2 separate regions of the Homo sapiens genome follow, and region 1 is linked to region 2. Evidence: fine-mapped expression QTL. Tissue or cell type: whole blood. Region 2 holds a variant in brackets; the other region holds the start of a gene. All regions are shown on one strand. Distances are from middle to middle.

The links. PIP is the estimated chance that this variant, and not a neighbour inherited with it, causes the effect.
Region 1: CEP295NL starts here. The variant in region 2 is fine-mapped to the expression of CEP295NL in whole blood (TOPMed, PIP above 0.99).

What each region holds. Positions count from the first base shown.
Region 1 is chr17:78,898,846-78,906,949 of GRCh38, reverse strand. It overlaps CEP295NL (CEP295 N-terminal like), which reads left to right and starts at 3,749. Exons shown (of 3, transcript NM_001243540.2): 1 at 3,749-3,816; 2 at 5,024-5,165. The coding sequence starts at 5,122. All of the region lies in intron 1 of TIMP2 (TIMP metallopeptidase inhibitor 2), which reads left to right. RefSeq lists an enhancer at 3,970-4,570.
Region 2 is chr17:78,811,700-78,819,803 of GRCh38, reverse strand. USP36 (ubiquitin specific peptidase 36) reads left to right here. Exons shown (of 21, transcript NM_001385174.1): 10 at 1,026-1,137; 11 at 5,252-5,392; 12 at 5,931-6,031; 13 at 6,803-6,944. Among named protein-coding and RNA genes, the nearest start is that of USP36, 25 kb to the left of the region's middle. The variant C/T (reference allele first, on the strand shown) is at 4,742.

The sequences.
Region 1 (8,104 bases), 87 kb before region 2:
GAATGTGAAGGAAATTAAAAAATGCTACTCCAGGTGATCACACAAATAATAAGAAAGTGGGCCTGCCGGCCAGACACGGTGGCTCACGCCTGTAATCCCAGCACTTTGGGAGGCTGAGGCGGGGGGATCACCTGAGGTCAGGAGTTCAAGACCAGCCTGGCCAACATGGTAAAACCCCGTCTCTACCAAAAATACAAAAATTAGCCAGGTGTGGTGGCGCAGGCCTGTAATCCCAGCTACTCGGGAGGCTGAGGCACAAGAATCGCGTGAACCCGGGAGATGGAGGTTGCAGTGAGCCGAGATCGCACCACTGTACTCCAGCCTGGGCAACAGAGCGAGACTCTGTCTCAAAAAAAATAATAAAAATAAAAAAGAAAAGGAAAAAAAAGAAATTGCCACAGCCAACCCCAATCTTCAGCAACCACCACCCTGATCAGTCAGCAGCCATCAACATGGAGGCAAGACCCTCCACCAGCAAAAAGACTGGACTCACTAGGTCGAGATGATTGTTAGCATTTTCAAGCAATAAAATATTTTTATTTTTATTTTTATTTCTTCAAGTTTTGGGTTTTTCTTTTTTTTGAGGCAGGACCTTGCTCTGTCACTCAGGCTGGAGTGCAGTGGCATGATCTTAGCTCACTGCAGCCTCGAACTTCTGGGCTTAAGCCATCCTCCTGCCTCAGCCTCCTGAGTAGCTGGGACTGCAGGTACGCACCACTATGCCTGGCTATTTTTAGTTTTTTATAGAGGTAGGATCTCACTGTGTTGCCTGGCTGGTCTGAAACTCCTGGGGTCAAGCCATCTACCTGCCTTGGCTTCCTAAAGTGCTGGGATGACAGGCGTGAGCCACTGCCCCGGCCAATAAAGTATTTGTAAATTAAGGTATGTGCATTGATAAGACATAATGTTATTGCACACTTACTGGGCTACTGTACAATGTAAACATAACATTTATATTTGGGAATATATATTGGTTTGGGAAACCAAAAGAGTCATGTGACTCACTTTATTTCAATATTCACTTTATTATGATTCTGTGGGAACTCAACCCGCAGTATGTCTGAGGTCTGCCTGTACCTGTAATTTTTAAAAGCTAGCATTTGCTAATATGTGGTTCTAATTGCAGTCAACAATAGTATGGACCCAGACTCTCAAGGCTGAGTTGGCCTTAGGCCAGTAGTGAATCCCATGCCAGAGAGAACATTTAGCAGGGCGGATTAATCCAGAGGATGGGGCTGCCTTCTAGAGCTTGCCAAGGCAGCGTCAGGAGAGCCCAGGCTTGAGAGAGATGTCCTCAGTCCAGAAAAGACCTGACGAGCACTTGGCAGTCGTGCTGGACATTCTGCAAGGGCCATCGAAGGCCTAGCGTGCCATCCTGTTGGTCCCCATGCTATTTCCTCCTCACTAGAACCTCTCCCCTTGCTTTAGAATGGGCGTCAAGGCCACGCTGAGAGGATAAAAGATGTAGGGATCTTCTCCGAGGAAGAAGCATATAGAAGATTTTGTATCTATGGGTCCGTATTAGGGTTTCCCAGAGAAACAGAACCAATAGGCTCCATCCAGCTGCGTAAGATGGGATTTATGTGGGAATTGACTCATGCAAGTATGAAGGCTGGGAGGTCCTGGAATCTGCTGTCTGTGAGCTGGAGCAGCAGGGTCACTGGTGCAGTAATGCAGCCTGAGTCTCAAAGCCTGAGAAGCGGGGTGGCCACTGGGGTAAGTCCTGGAGCCCAAAGGCCTGAGGCCCAGGAGCTCTGAGGTCCAAGGCAGAAAGAAGGTGGATGTCCCAGCTCTCTCTCTTTTTTTTTTTGAGATGGAGTCTCACTTTGTTGCTCAGGTTGGAGTTCAGTGGTGCGATTTCGGCTCACTGCAACCTTCACTTCCCTGGTTCAAGCGATTCTCCTGCCTTAGCCTCCTGAGTAGCTGGGACTGTAGGTGTGCGCCACCACGCCCGGGTCATTTTTGTATTTTTAGTAGAGATGGGGTTTCACCATGTTGGCCTGGTCTCAAACTCTTGAGCTCAGGTGATCCACCTGCCTCGGCCTCCCAAAGTGCTGGGATTACAGGCGTGAGCCACCGCGCCCAGCCTGGATGTCCCAGCTCTTGCAGAGGGAGGGTTTGCCTGCCTCTGCCTCTGTCTCTTTGTTCTGTCCGGGCTTTCAACAGATTGAGTGATGGTGCCCCACCTGGCGAGGAGGGATCTTCTTACTCAGTCCCCCGGTTCAGATGCCAGTCTCTTCCCAGAGCCACCCAGAAATCACGTTTTCCCAGCTATCTGAGCATCCCTTAGCCCGTCAAGCTGACATAAAATGAATCATCAAGGGCTGCGAAGATGGACTCCAAAAGTGGGCGGGGGTAGGGGGGTGGTGGTGGACTGTGATCGAGAACATTCCTGCAGGGAGAATGCCTCCCTTCCCTGAGTCAGGGACCAGATAACCTTTCCAGGGTCCTTCCAGCCCAGGACAAAGGGCTTTGTCTCAGGTTCAGCTCTCCTGAGAATTCATCCTCCCCGAGATTTGGACACCTCAGCCGAATTCCTGCTGTTTACCTTCTTCTCTCAAGAAACAACAACCTGAGGATTGTTGCTTTCACTTCTTCGGACCCAAATCATGATTTCCCAGCCACATTTCTCAGTTGTCAAATTTGTGGAGGATGCTGGAAGCTTCTAGTGAGTTGCTTACAGATGATCCAACTGGCGGCTTACTAAAACATATCTTGGGCTGGGGGCGGTGGCTCGTGCCTATAATCCTAGCACTTTGGGAGGTCGAGGCAGGGGAATCGCTTGAGGTCAGGAGTTCAAGACCCGCCTAGCCAACATGGTAAAACCCCGTCTCTGCTAAAACACACACACACACACATAAATTAGCTGGGCATGGTGGCATGCACCTGTAGTCCCAGCTACTCAGAAAGCTGAGGCACTAGAATCCCTGAACCCGGGAGGCAGAGGTTGCAGTGAGCCGAGATTGCGCCACCGTACTCCAGCCTGGGCAACAGAGCAAGACTGTCTAAAAAACAAACAAAAAACATATCTTGACAATGCCAGTCATCACTTTACCACAGACCTTAAGATGCCAACCACCCAGACTAGGTCAGGGGCCCCCATTTCCAGCAGCTACTCCTGCTTCCTGGAAACCCCCTGCACCGGCCAGACTCCCCCAGTGTCCCATGTTCATCCCCAGCCTCGCCCTGCCAGCTTCCCTCGCCCATCCTTCTGATCAAACTGTCTGTGGGGAACTAGCCCTCAAACGAGGCCAAGTACGTGTGGCTTCTCCTCCTGTGTGGGCAGGTGGTTGACGGGATTCTTTCTTCCCCCGCCTCCAGTGGGTTTCAGTTTAACGATGGCTTTCTGGAGCTGTTTAGAAGCGTGAACAGATGCTGTCCCTACAGGAGAAGGGATGGCAGGCGTTGTCAGGAACCCTGACCTTGAAGTGTACCTCCTTAATGGCCTGACAGCTCAGAGAGAATGACACCCTGGGAGGTCTCCATGCAGCCAGCTGGGGACAAAAAGATGTCCTCTGCCTGGTATGGCCACGAGCATTTGTACATTGCACTGTCCTTGTTCACCCACACCTCCTTAAACAGTGCCTTCAGGTGCCCCCATGGCTCCCGGCTGCTTGAGCCAAATCTTTATGATTGATCCCCTAACCTACACGCTTGCCCCCTGGCTGGCTCACAGCTGTCCCTGACCTCACCCCTGCCATGATGTCACAGCTCAACAGCTCTGCTGTTCCCATGGCAACAGCCTGCTATGAGTAGCCAGCCAGGGCAGAGGCCGGGCTGCAGGTGGAGGCGGGGAAGCGATTCCGGCCACCTTTGGTCAGTGGGCCCCTGAGACCACTGCGGGGCTGAGGCTCTCTGTGTCTGTTCCCATCTGTGGTGAGGGTGGGGTTCTTTCCATGCCCAGCTGTTTAGCGAGGCTCCCAAGAGGGCCCCGGAGAGTGGGCCAAGGAGGGGCTCCAAGCCGTGGGTTCGCAAGGCCAGCGGCAAAGTCCCTGCACCACGGGGCTCCCCACAGGCAGTGTGATGGGAAGGAGAGTGAGGGAAGCTGGTGGGACTGGGTTGGAGATGAATATGGTTGTTGGAGGAGTTGGGCTGGGGGGTCTTCAGGAAGCAGGAACACCTGCTGGGATTGGGGACCCCTGACCTAGGCTGGGTGCTTAGGATCTTGAGGTTTGCAGGGAAGCGGTAATGGACGCTGTCGAGGTATGTTTAGTGAGCCACCGGTTGCATCAGCTGTAAGCCCCCCACGTGGGGAGCTGGCGTCTCAGCTGGGAGTTTGGAGGTCAGTCTGCCTCAGTGTCTGTCTCTGTGAAGCTGGTCAAGGGGAGGCCTGAGCCCGAGCTTGCCCCCAGAGGCTGCCTGCCCAACCATCTCCACCCTGGAGAGCTGACCCAGCCCAGGATATGGATACACACAGATTCATGAGCTGTGGCCCCAGTATTCGGGTGGAAAAGCCTGCTGTGGGCCTAGCCAGGACTCATTCTAACGTGACCCACCCCTGCCCCAGGTGATGCTAACACAGCCAGTCCAAAACCCAGTGCAGGCTGGGCATGGTGGCTCATGCCTGGAATCCCAGCACTTTGGGAGGCCGAGGCGAGTGGATCACCTGAGGTCAGGAGTTTGTAACCAGTCTGACCAATATGGTGAATCCCCGTCTCTACTAAAAATACAAAAATTAGCTGGGTGTGGTGGCGTGCGCCTGTAGTCCCAGCTACTTGGGAAGGCTGAGACAGGAGAATTGCTTGAACCCGGAAGGTGGAGGTTGCAGTAAGCTGAGATCGCACCACTGCACTCCAGCCTGGGCAACATAGTGAAACCAAAACCCAGTGCAGTGGCTTGGGACCCCCGTCCCCCCGCCACCACTGGGACGTGGCTAAGAGTTGGGGAGAAGAGGGCGAAAACCAAGCCTCTGGCAGCACACAGCGTGTCATGGAGGGTATTTTTAGAGGCTAGAACTCAGAGAAACGGAGTTAAAAATGTTTCTGATGTTTGTTTTATCTGGGCTTGGTTCGGATGCCTCCAGTGATGGGCGTCTCACTACCTACAAAGTCAGCCCAGTGATTTCAAGACAGCCCTGGAGACAGTGCTTCCTGCCCTCCTGTCAGCTTCTGCCTCCCTGTAATGTGTTCTGGGTGGTCTAGCTCAGTCATCTGGAGACACACACAGTAAGTACCACCCCTCTTCCCCAAGCATTTCAGGTGCTTCTCGTGGTGACAAGCACTGGCATCTCTGTAGATGGGTGCTGCTGTTGTTATCATCCCCATCCTAAAGAGCAAACTGAGGCACCCAGAGTGAAGTCGCTTGGCCTAGGTCACATAGTACTCTTAAGCACCATACTCTGCCATTCTAGACTTTTCTATCCTTTGCAAACACCCTTGCCCCACCTCACCTCCTTTGGCTTTTCTTCCTAGGACCTTTGGTCAGTGGGCCCCTCCTGACCAAAGGAGTTCATTCTCCTCCTGGACTCCAAGCCTGCGGCCTCTTCTCCCCGTCCTTACCGCCCTCCTCCTCTCCCGAGAACTGTCCAGGAAGACACACCTCTCCCTCGTTCAGATTTGCTCCTTGTTCTTCAGCCCGTGCATCTCCTTTAGGTCTTGAACAGTTCTGGACAGGTTTATTCCTGATCATTTCATCACGGTTTTATTGATTTTGAAACTTTATCCCGTGACATGATCAAATTGGCCATTTCTAGAGCACAGGCACTTCGTAGCTGTTGACCATCATTTAGCTCCACGTCTGCCCGTCGGTTCCTCGTGCGTGGAATCCAGCACCACGTGGGTGTCTCTGCCGAGCTCTCGGCATTTCCTGAGCCCTCCCGGAAGCCAGACTCTGTTCTCGGCGCTTCACACGGGCCGTCTCGTCTGATGCTGTGGCGTCCTGCAGGGTGGGAACGGGCGGTGCCCGTGGACGTGGCGCTGTGCCTGCCGGCGTCCTGGGCACCACAGCGTTGCCGCTTGCCCACTGCCTCCTAGCATGGCCAGGTGAGGTCGGGCTGGCTGGGCTGCACCATTCGCTCGCATGTTAGAGGCGTTTCTGTTCACTCAGGGGACAGTCACGTTGGCCCTTCTGGTGGCCCAGCGTCTTTTGTCCCCTGTGCTGCTCCACACACCCACCTCTGTACTTGCATAGTTGGATTTAGGGACCCACATATAAGTTTTAGATGTGTTCCCATTACCTTTTTTTATCTTGTAAGATTTGGCCAGTTGTGCAAGCTGTTAAAAACCTCTAGGCTAGAGTCTAGCAACAATTTTCCACCTCCCCCAAGGGTTATCTGTATCCGGGGATGCCCACAGCTTTGAATTGATAAGGTCAGGTGTGAAAGCTCAGGCAGTGGTCCTGTGGAAGAGCCCACCACCACCTCGGACTCTACTTACTTTATTAAAAAACACATTTTTTTTTTTTTTTGAAATGGAGTCTTGCTCTGTTGCCTAGGCTAGAGTACAGTGGTGCGATCTTGGCTCACTGCAACCTCCGCCTCCTGGGTTCAAGTGATTCTCCTGCCTCAGCCTCCTGAGTAGCTGGGATTACAGGCATATACCACCACACCTGGCTAATTTTTTGTATTTAGTAGAGACGAGGTTTCACCACGTTGGTCAGGCTGGTCTCGAACTCCTGTCGTGAGGTGATCCAGCCACCTCAGCCTCCCAAAGTGCTGGGATTACAGGCGTGAGCCACCGCGCCCGGCCAAAAAAACCACAATTTTAATAAGCTTGTTTGTGTGGCTGCTGTCAGACAGTTATGACCAGGGAAGGGAGGACACAGGAAGCTCTAAAAAGGCGACTTAAAAAACCCAAATTGCATTCTGGGGTCACTTAGTTTATGGGACCTCTGTTCTTTACATTTTAAAAGCCCTCGAGGGATTTCCTATATTATCATCCCAAAGACAATCCAAAATTTCCCCCAAAGAAGGTCAAATTACATATTCTACGTAGGCGCCTTAGACAGAGAAATGTCTAACTTTCCATATGAAAGGGTAAGCTCTAATTATATGGAAATGTTCTCTCTCTGGCCGATGCCAGCTAACGGAGCCCTTCTATAGCTATTTTTATGTTTCAAAGACAAAGCGCTTGACTATGTGGCCCGGGTGCTGGGCTTCTGGAGAAAGGGAAGAGCATTCTCTTTGTTCCCTTGGAGGGTTGGGGCATCCTGGGGGAGTGGGAACGAGGCCTGGGCTGGGGACATGCGGGTAGGATGGGGAAGGGGGTGTGTCCATGTCACGAGGAACCTGCATGAGCACATTCCAGGCGCTGCTGGGTGTGGGGCATTTGGGAATGGCCAGGAGCTCTACCACCCCTGTCTGGTGTGCAGCGTTCCAGGCTAGGGTGGCTCCCAGGGGAGCCAGGGCGAGCTGCTTGACCGTTCTCAAGCCTCTAGGCCCAGAGATTGCCAGGCTTTGGCAGGGCAGCTGGTGAACTGGCTGCATTCCTGGGCCCCTCCCGCAGGGGCTGGGATAGGATCTGTCAGGGGTGAGGCCCAGGAATCTACCCCTTCACCAGCAGCTCAGCTGATTATGATGCACGTGGCTGCGGGTTGCACTCAGAGACTTGCTGGTGTGGACAGCAGGGAATCACATGGGGGATGCTGAAATGTAACCCAGGTCTCTCAGTTAGACAGCGCTGGGCTGCAGTGCGGGAGAGGACGGGGTGCAGGCCTGGGGGTCGGGGGCAGAGAGGCTGATTGGGAGGCTTTTAAGGGCCTCAGGTGAGAGATGATCAGGGCTGAGCTGCTGGCAGGGGAGGAAGGCAGAGCAAGATGCAGCTTCCTGGAAGAGATGGTTTGCCAGGGCCGCAGTACTCCAAGCGTGGTCCCCCAGATGGCAGCATCAGCATCCCTGGGAGCGCTTTAGAGATGCAGAGTCTGGCGGGCGTGGGGGCTCACACCCGGAATCCCAGCACTTTAGAGATGCAGAGTCTGGCGGGTGCGGGGGCTCATGCCTGGAATCCCAGCACTTTGGGAGGCCAAGGCGGGCAGATCACTTGAGGTCAGGAGTTTGAGACCAGCCTGGCCGGCATGGTGAAACCCTATCTCTACTAAAAATACAAAAATTAGCCAGGCATGGTGGCGCGTGCCTATAGTCCCAGCTACTTGGGAGGCTGAGGCAAGA
Region 2 (8,104 bases):
ATGTGTGTCCTAAAAACTCAAACTTCTAAATAACACGAATGAAGCAATAGCTATGATTTTTATAGCTACAGTTTACACCATACCTGTTCTAAAGATGCCGCATATATTGTGCAGTAGGGGCTGTGGTTTCCCATTGCTAGGGATGGTGAAACTGAGGCACAGAGAAGTGAAGTGACCAGCCATGGGGCCACACCAAGAGGACGTGGCAGAGCACGAGCTCACATCAGTTCACACTGGCTGGCACCGGGCGGCCGCCCCAGGGACTGTGCCCAACCAGCTGCTCTCTTGCCTCTTAAGGAGTGTTTTCTTTGGCTTTCATTTTTTACTTAACTGGTTTTGGACATTTTTCCGTTTCTGCAGATAGAACTCTTACTTTGTCATTTGTTGCATTTTTAGTAGTGACAGGGTTTCACCTTGTTGGCCAGGCTGGTCTCGAACTCCTGAACTCAGGTGATCTTCCTGCCTTGCCTCCCAAAGTGCTGGGATCACACTACTACAGCCGGCTGAATATCTTTATATCTAGGTCCTTGTAAAGCTGTAGGCACTAAAGAATATATTCTTAATTCTGCTTTACTCTTCTTTAGGTCTGTTTCCTGCAGCTCTCCAAGCTGCGCGCCTCTGCTTCTGTTTTCTCTCCCTGTGTTTGCGCATCTTCTAGCTTTGCTTACGTTGACTTCCTGCCTGCCCGTTTTATCACTCAGCCACATCTGCTTTAATTTGCTCTTTCCTGTGTTGGCCCAAAGCAACTTTTTCCTGTATTTTATTTAGTTTCCTGGTGGGTACAGTACTTTTATTTTTTTGCTTTAGAATCTTCCCACTTTCTGTAGTCTTATTTCCCTGTGGTAGCTTTCCTTTACTTGAGGCATGCTTAATGTGATTTTGAGAGGAGCAGAAGGTCGAAATCTCATTGATGAAGATTCCACTATTACAGAGCAGTTGTTGCTGTTATTAACTTAGCGTTAAGACAACATTTTTCAGAGCACGAATCAATCATTCATTAATCTTTCTCATCACCTTCTTCATAGATGCAAGAAGAAGGTTCCAGCCAGCAAGCGCTTCACCATCCACAGAACATCCAACGTCTTAACCCTTTCCCTCAAGCGCTTTGCCAACTTCAGCGGGGGGAAGATCACCAAGGTGAGCGCTCGTGACACCATCCCAGGCAGCTCCGTGGGCCACAGTCGGCATCAGAATAACACGAAGAAAGTGATAGCCACGAGTTTGATAGCTGCTGTTTACACAGTACCTGTCCCTGTTCTAAAGGTTCTACACATATTGTGAAGTAGGGACTGTAGTTTCGCCCTTGTCCAGGACGGGAAGACAGTCACAGAGAGGGGAAGCAACCTGGGACGCCTTTTAAAAATAGACGTTTCTGGGTTTATCCCAGTGCCAGTGAATTTGAATCTCTGGAGGACAGGGCCCAGGAATCTGCATTTTTGCAAAATCCCTGAATGCTTGTTATACACAGTCAAGTTCCAGGGCCACTGTCTTAATGGATTTACCGCAGCTTCTGGTTGTGCTTGGGCTGGTCCTGGCAGGGACTTTCAGGGTTCTCCAGATGAGTGTGATGAGCACTGGGCGGTGGGACTTGCATTGTCCATGTCCTTTTGATGTCTAGAACAGGTGCCGTTGCATGCTCTGGCTTTTTATGAAATATGGAGTTTAGAAAAACTACTTTTGACACGATGGTATTTTATTGTTTAAATTTCATTTTGTTTTAAGACAGGGTCTCACTCTGTCACCTGGGCTGGAGTGCAGTGGCATAATCAGCGCTCACTACAGTCTTGACCTCCCAAGCTCAAGCGATCCCCCTGCCTTAGCCTCCTGAGTAGCTGGGACTGTGGGCACATGCCACCATGCCTGGTTAATTTTTTAAAAAGTTTTTTGTAGAGACAGCATCTTGCTGTGTTGCCCAGGGTGGTCTCAAACTCCTGGGCTCAAGTGACCTGCATGCCTTGACCTCTCACAGTGCTGGGATTACAGGTGTGAGCCACCATACCTGGCCTATAGTGGCATTTTCATAGAAGATGTGTTTCTTTTTTCTTTTTTCTCTTTTTTTTTTTTTTGAGACAGAGTCTTGCTCTGATGCCCAGGCTGGATTGCAGTGGCGCTGTCTCCACCTTCTGGGTTCAAGTGATTCTCCTGCATCAGCCTCCAGAGTAGTTGGGATTAAGGCGCCCACCACCACACCTGGCTAATTTTTGTATTTTTAGTAGAGATGGGGTTTTGCCATGGTGGCCAGGCTGGTCTCGAACTCCTGAGCTCAGGTGATCCGCCTGCCTCAGCCTCCTAAAGTGCTGGGATAACAGGCATGAGCCACCGTGCCCAGTAGATGTCTGTATCTCATAAAAATCTAGAGTTCTGTTCTGAGAGCCTGGTTATGTGGTTTGGAATGACACCCTTGGCTGAGCCTCCGTTTCCTCACTGGTAGTGGTGGGGGCTTGCTTAGGTCAGCATTTCTCAAATGTGTTTGCAGATTCTTAATGTCGTAGACTCAGGTGTCGTGTAACCACAAGGGCATGTTTTAAGAAATGTGTCACCAGGCAATTCTGTCACTGTGTGAACATCATAGAGTGCATTTACACAGACGTAGATGACGGAGCCAGCTGTATGGTATAGCCCATTGCTCCTAGGCCACAAACCTACACAGCCTGTTCCTGTCCTGAATACTGTAGGCAGTTGCAACACAATGGGAAGTATTTGTGTATCTAAACATAGAGAAGGTACAGTGAAAATGCAGTATTATAATCTTATGGGATCGCTGTTGTATATGTGGTCTGTCATTGACCAAAACATGTTATGTGGCACATGACTGATGGTATGTGACGTTTAAGAACAGGCAAAATTAATGGTGACAGAAATCAGAACAGTGAATATTTGAGATGGGGGCAATGACTGGGATGTGGGAATTTTCTAGTTGATGTTCTGCATGTCCATCAGTATATACTTGTCAAAACTCTTTGATCTATATACTGAAGATCTATGCATTTCAACAAATCCCACAACTCAGTTTAAAAAAATGATTTAGGCTGGGCACAATGGCTCACAACTCTAATGTCAGCACTTAGGGAGGCTGAGGTGGGAGGATTGCTTGAGACTGGGAGTTTAAGACCAGCTTGGGCAACATAGTGAGACCCTGTCTCTACAAAAAAATTTTGGTTTTTTTGTTTTTTTTTTTGAGACGGAGTCTTACTCTGTCACCCAGGCTAGAGTGCAGTGGCACCATCTCAGCTCACTGCAATATCTGCCTCCCAAGTTCAAGCGATTCTCCTGCCTCAGCCTCCCAAGTAGCTGGGACCACAAATGTGTGCCACCATGCTTGGCTAAATTTTGTATTTTTAGTAGAGACGGGGTTCCACCATGTTGGCCAGGCTGGTCTTGAACTCCTGACCTCAAGTGATCCACCCACCTCGGCCTCCCAAAGTGTTGGGATTATAGGTGTGAGCCATCATGCCCGGCCTAAAAAATTTTTATTAATTGGCCAGTCATGGTGGCGCGTGCCTATAGTCCCAGCTACTTGGGAGGTAGAGATAGGAGGATTGCTTGAGTCCAGGAGTTTGAAGTTACAGTGAGCTATGAATGTACCACTGCACTCTAGCCTGGGTGACAGAGCGAGACTGTGTTTCTTAAAAAAAAAAAAAAAAATTATGCGTATGTTTTTCGGAGTTCCTAAACACACGTCTGTATATGACCCAGAATAATGGCAATCCTGTCATGTGGGCTCTGTGCTGTCCTGGTGCACTCAGCCTACAGCTGCCATGCCAGGCACTATTACTGCTAAGAATATATGTGTGTGCATGTATGTATATATGTGTGTGCACGTATTATATGTGTGTGTATGTATATGTGTGTGCATGCATGTGTGTATATGTGTGTGTATGTGTGCGTATGCATGTGTGCGTGCATGTATGTGTTGTGCATGTATGTATATGCGTACATGTGTATGCATGCATATGTGTGTGTGTATGTATATATGTGTGCATGTGTGTATACGATGTATGTATGCATGTATGTATATATGTGTGCATGTATTTTATGCGTGCATGTATGCATATATGTATGCATGTTATGTATATGTGTGCGTGTATTTTTTTCTATGAAAAATTGGTCAGTTTTGGGAAGACATTTTAGCATGACCTTTCTTCTGATCCAGTTGATTAAAAGTCTTACTTGCGGTAGCAGTTGGCTATATTAATTCAGCACTTTTATTTCTGAAGATCTAAAACCCAGCATTCTCTCCCTTTTCTCCCACCAACAATGTTCCTGTAAAGTGGAGGGAAAGAAAATGAGTGACCCTTCTCATTTGATCGTTAGGAACCAGGTGGTGAGAGAACTAATGGAGATGCTTGACAAAGACAAGAACAGATCCTGCATTGCTTGATGGGACAATAAAGTTTCCCATAGGCTGGCTGGAGAAGACTCACTTCTCAGCATCTTGGTGTTTTTTCTTTGTTTGTTTGTTTTGATTGTTTTGAGATGGAGTCTCGCTCTGTTGCGAGGCTGGAGTGCAGTGGTATGATCTCGGCTCACTGTAACCTCCACCTCCTGGTTTCAAGCGATTCTCCTGCCTCAGCCTCCTGAGTAGCTGGAACTACAGGCACGTGCCACCACGCCTGGCTAATTTTTGTATTTTTAGTAGAGACAAGGTTTCGCCATCTTGGCCACGATGGTCTCAATCTCTTGACCTTGTGATCTACCCGCCTCGGCCTCCCAAAGTGCTGGGATTACAGGCGTGAGCCAC[C/T]GCACCTGGCCAGCATCTTGGTTTTTAATCATTGCCTGGGGGAGCTCCTGCACAGCGTTGCTGCACACCCATTCGCCCCAAATTGTCTTTTTCTTGTTTGTGGCGGGGCAGTTTTGAGACAGTCTCGCTCTGTCGCCCAGGCTGAGTGCAGTGGCTCGATCTCGGCTCACTGCAACCTCTGCCTCGCGGGTTCAAGTGATTCTTGTTCCTCAGCCTCCTGAGTAGCTGGGATTACAGGCAGTGCACCACCATGCCCAGCTAATTTTTTGTATTTTTATTAGAAGTGGGGTTTCGCTATATTGGTCAGGCTGATCTCGAACTCCTCGAGGTGATCCCCCTGCCTCAGCCTCCCAAAGTGCTGGGATTACAGGCGTGAGCCACTGTGCCCGGCCCCCAAATTGTTAAAGACCAGACAAGCTGGGCATTTTGTGTGGTTGTGGATGGAAAGGGCAAATTGATCTTTACTCTCAAAGTGAATTTTATTTGTCTTTTCCTTGATTTTTCAAACAGGATGTAGGCTATCCGGAATTCCTCAACATACGTCCGTATATGTCCCAGAATAATGGTGATCCTGTCATGTATGGACTCTATGCTGTCCTGGTGCACTCGGGCTACAGCTGCCATGCCGGGCACTATTACTGCTACGTGAAGGTGAGAGGCTTGTGTCAGTGCAGCTGCCTCCTGGGACAGGTTTCAGCACCCATGCACATCCAGATGCGGCCTCTGTAGAGCACTTACTTTGTGAAAAGTGTGATGTTTTGTGGTTGTATTCAAGTCCTCGTTGTTGCCTCTCTGCGTGGAGTGAAAAGATGCCCTTTACAGAAGTGTTGCACCAGAATCTAGTGTTCTCAGACTTGCAGGGAGACACGGAAGAGGCAGCCGCTTCTGGTGCCATCCTTAGAACCCTGGCAAAATCGGCCATGGTGATGACACTGCCTGAATGTCCTTTAGAAGGGACAGTTCCTATCTGTTGGGGCACTAGGAAGGAACTGGGACGCAGAGCACACTTTGGGGTCACATTCCGAGTTATGAAAATATTACACGTTTTAATAGAAGTTGTTACCTGTTGATTATTAATAGTGTTTGGAAATGTAGCAACTAACAGATTTTTTATTCCCTTTTTAAAAAGTGAGGATAATGGGATGCTTGTTGATTGTTTTGTTTTCTGCAACATCCTTGGCTGCTTCAGGCAAGCAATGGACAGTGGTACCAGATGAATGATTCCTTGGTCCATTCCAGCAACGTCAAGGTGGTTCTGAACCAGCAGGCCTACGTGCTGTTCTATCTGCGGTAATAAACTCACGCCCTCCCCAGATGAGCTCACTCCCTCTGCTCTTTTCTTATACCGGTGGGCCTCCCTAACCTTTTTTTGTTTGAAGGTAATTGGGAATTCCACTGGAGGGATTTGTCATGTGTCATAGAGACCGTCCACAGGGAAGGACACTTTTTAGTAAAGCCAGAGCCTTGGGAAGGTCAGGACAGGATCCCATCTGCCCTCACATTGATGCTGTTTTGAATGTAAACAGGAAAGTCACCATTTATAGTATTGCCCCAAATTAGAGGTACTGCTCCCTGGATGGTAGCCAGCCAATGCCCCTTCCCGTGTGGGGAAGCTGCCCCTGTAGGGATATGCTGGGAAGGACGTGTTTGTGGGGGTGCTGCTGCAGAGCTTCTCTGGAGGGGCCTTCTCCTGGAGCTGGCTGTCACTGACCTGGAGGCTGGAGACCGTGGCAGCTGAGGCATTTTTGCTGCTTTGTACGTCTCTGCAGAGTGTGGCTGAGGTGTTTGAGGTTCTTGCTTTCTGGTGCATTGAACTCTGATCTTGGAGGAATTCTGACTCTAATTTGCCCTTGCTCTGCTTATATTCAGCAGATACTTGGGGCTGATCTCTCAGCCTCACTGTGGTTGAAAGGCAAAGGGAGATTCCAGAGAAGTGGTTAGGACTGGCAGGGTTTCCCCAGGCCGTGTTTCTGCCTTTGCCCCGCCTTAACTTATTCTAATTCTCTCCGTTTCTGTAATGCCTAGTAAGAGAATTCCCTACTTGTTTTCTTCCTTTGACAGAATTCCAGGCTCTAAGAAAAGTCCCGAGGGCCTCATCTCCAGGACAGGCTCCTCCTCCCTTCCCGGCCGCCCGAGTGTGATTCCAGATCACTCCAAGAAGAACATCGGCAATGGGATTATTTCCTCCCCACTGACTGGAAAGGTATTTGTGAGAATGATGGAGGCCAAAGTGGCTGGTCTTGGTGCTCCTCACAGACCTCCTCACACTTGGGAAGTTGGCCACAGTGGAAGGAATTTGCAGGCAGTTTGCACTATTCTAGTTGATGTTATTTCTTTTCTTTTCTTTTTTTTTTTTTTTTTTTTTCGAGACAGAGTCTCGCTCTGTCATCCAGGCTGGGGTGCAGTGGTGCGATCTCCAATCTCGGCTCACTGCAAGCTCTGCCTCCCGGGTTCCCGCCATTCTCCTGCCTCAGCCTCCCTAGTAGCTGGGATTATAGGTGCCCGAACCACGCCCGGCTAATTTTTTTTGTATTTTTAGTAGAGACGGGGTTTCACCGTGTTAGCCAGGATGCTTTCGATCTCCTGACCTCAGGATCTGCCCGCCTCGGCCTCCCAAAGTGCTGGGATTACAGGCATGAGCCACCGCGCCCGGCCAATGTTATTTCTTAAACTGGTCATCAGCTGACATTGGCTATAGAGAAAGAGGAGACATGAATGAGAAAATTCTGACCCAACAAATTAGAATTGTCATTCACAGATCTGTTCTACTCATGAGACCAGCACCACTTACAGGTGTCGTGACAGGTGTGCCAAGCAAACTTTCTGTGTGCACTCCTTTTATTTCCTTTATAATGCCAAGCAAACTTTTTTTTTTGGAGACAGGGTCTCACTCTGTTACCCAGACTGGAGTACAGTGGCACAATCATGGTTCAGGGCAGGCTTGAGCTCCTGGATTCAAGCCACCCTCCTGCCCCAGCATCCCTAGTATTCGGGACTATCAGTGCACTACCACACCCAGCTAATTTTTAAATTTTGTGTAGAGACAGGGTCTCACTATGTTGCCCTGGCTGGTCTTAAGCTCCTCAGCCCAAGCAATTCTCCTGTCTTGGCCTCTCAGAGTGCCAGGATTACAGGCACCAAGCAAACTCTTAACCGTAAGCGTGTAGGAAAAAATATCCTTTTTTTTTTTTCTTTGAGACGGAGTCTCATTCTGTCGCCCAGGCTGGAGTGCAGTGGCGCAACCTTGGCTCGCTGCAACCTCCACCTCCCAGGTTCAAGCGATTCTCCTGCCTCAGCCTCCCGAGTAGCTGGGACTACAGGCGTGTGCCACCATGCATGGCTAATTTTTTTATTTTTAGTGGA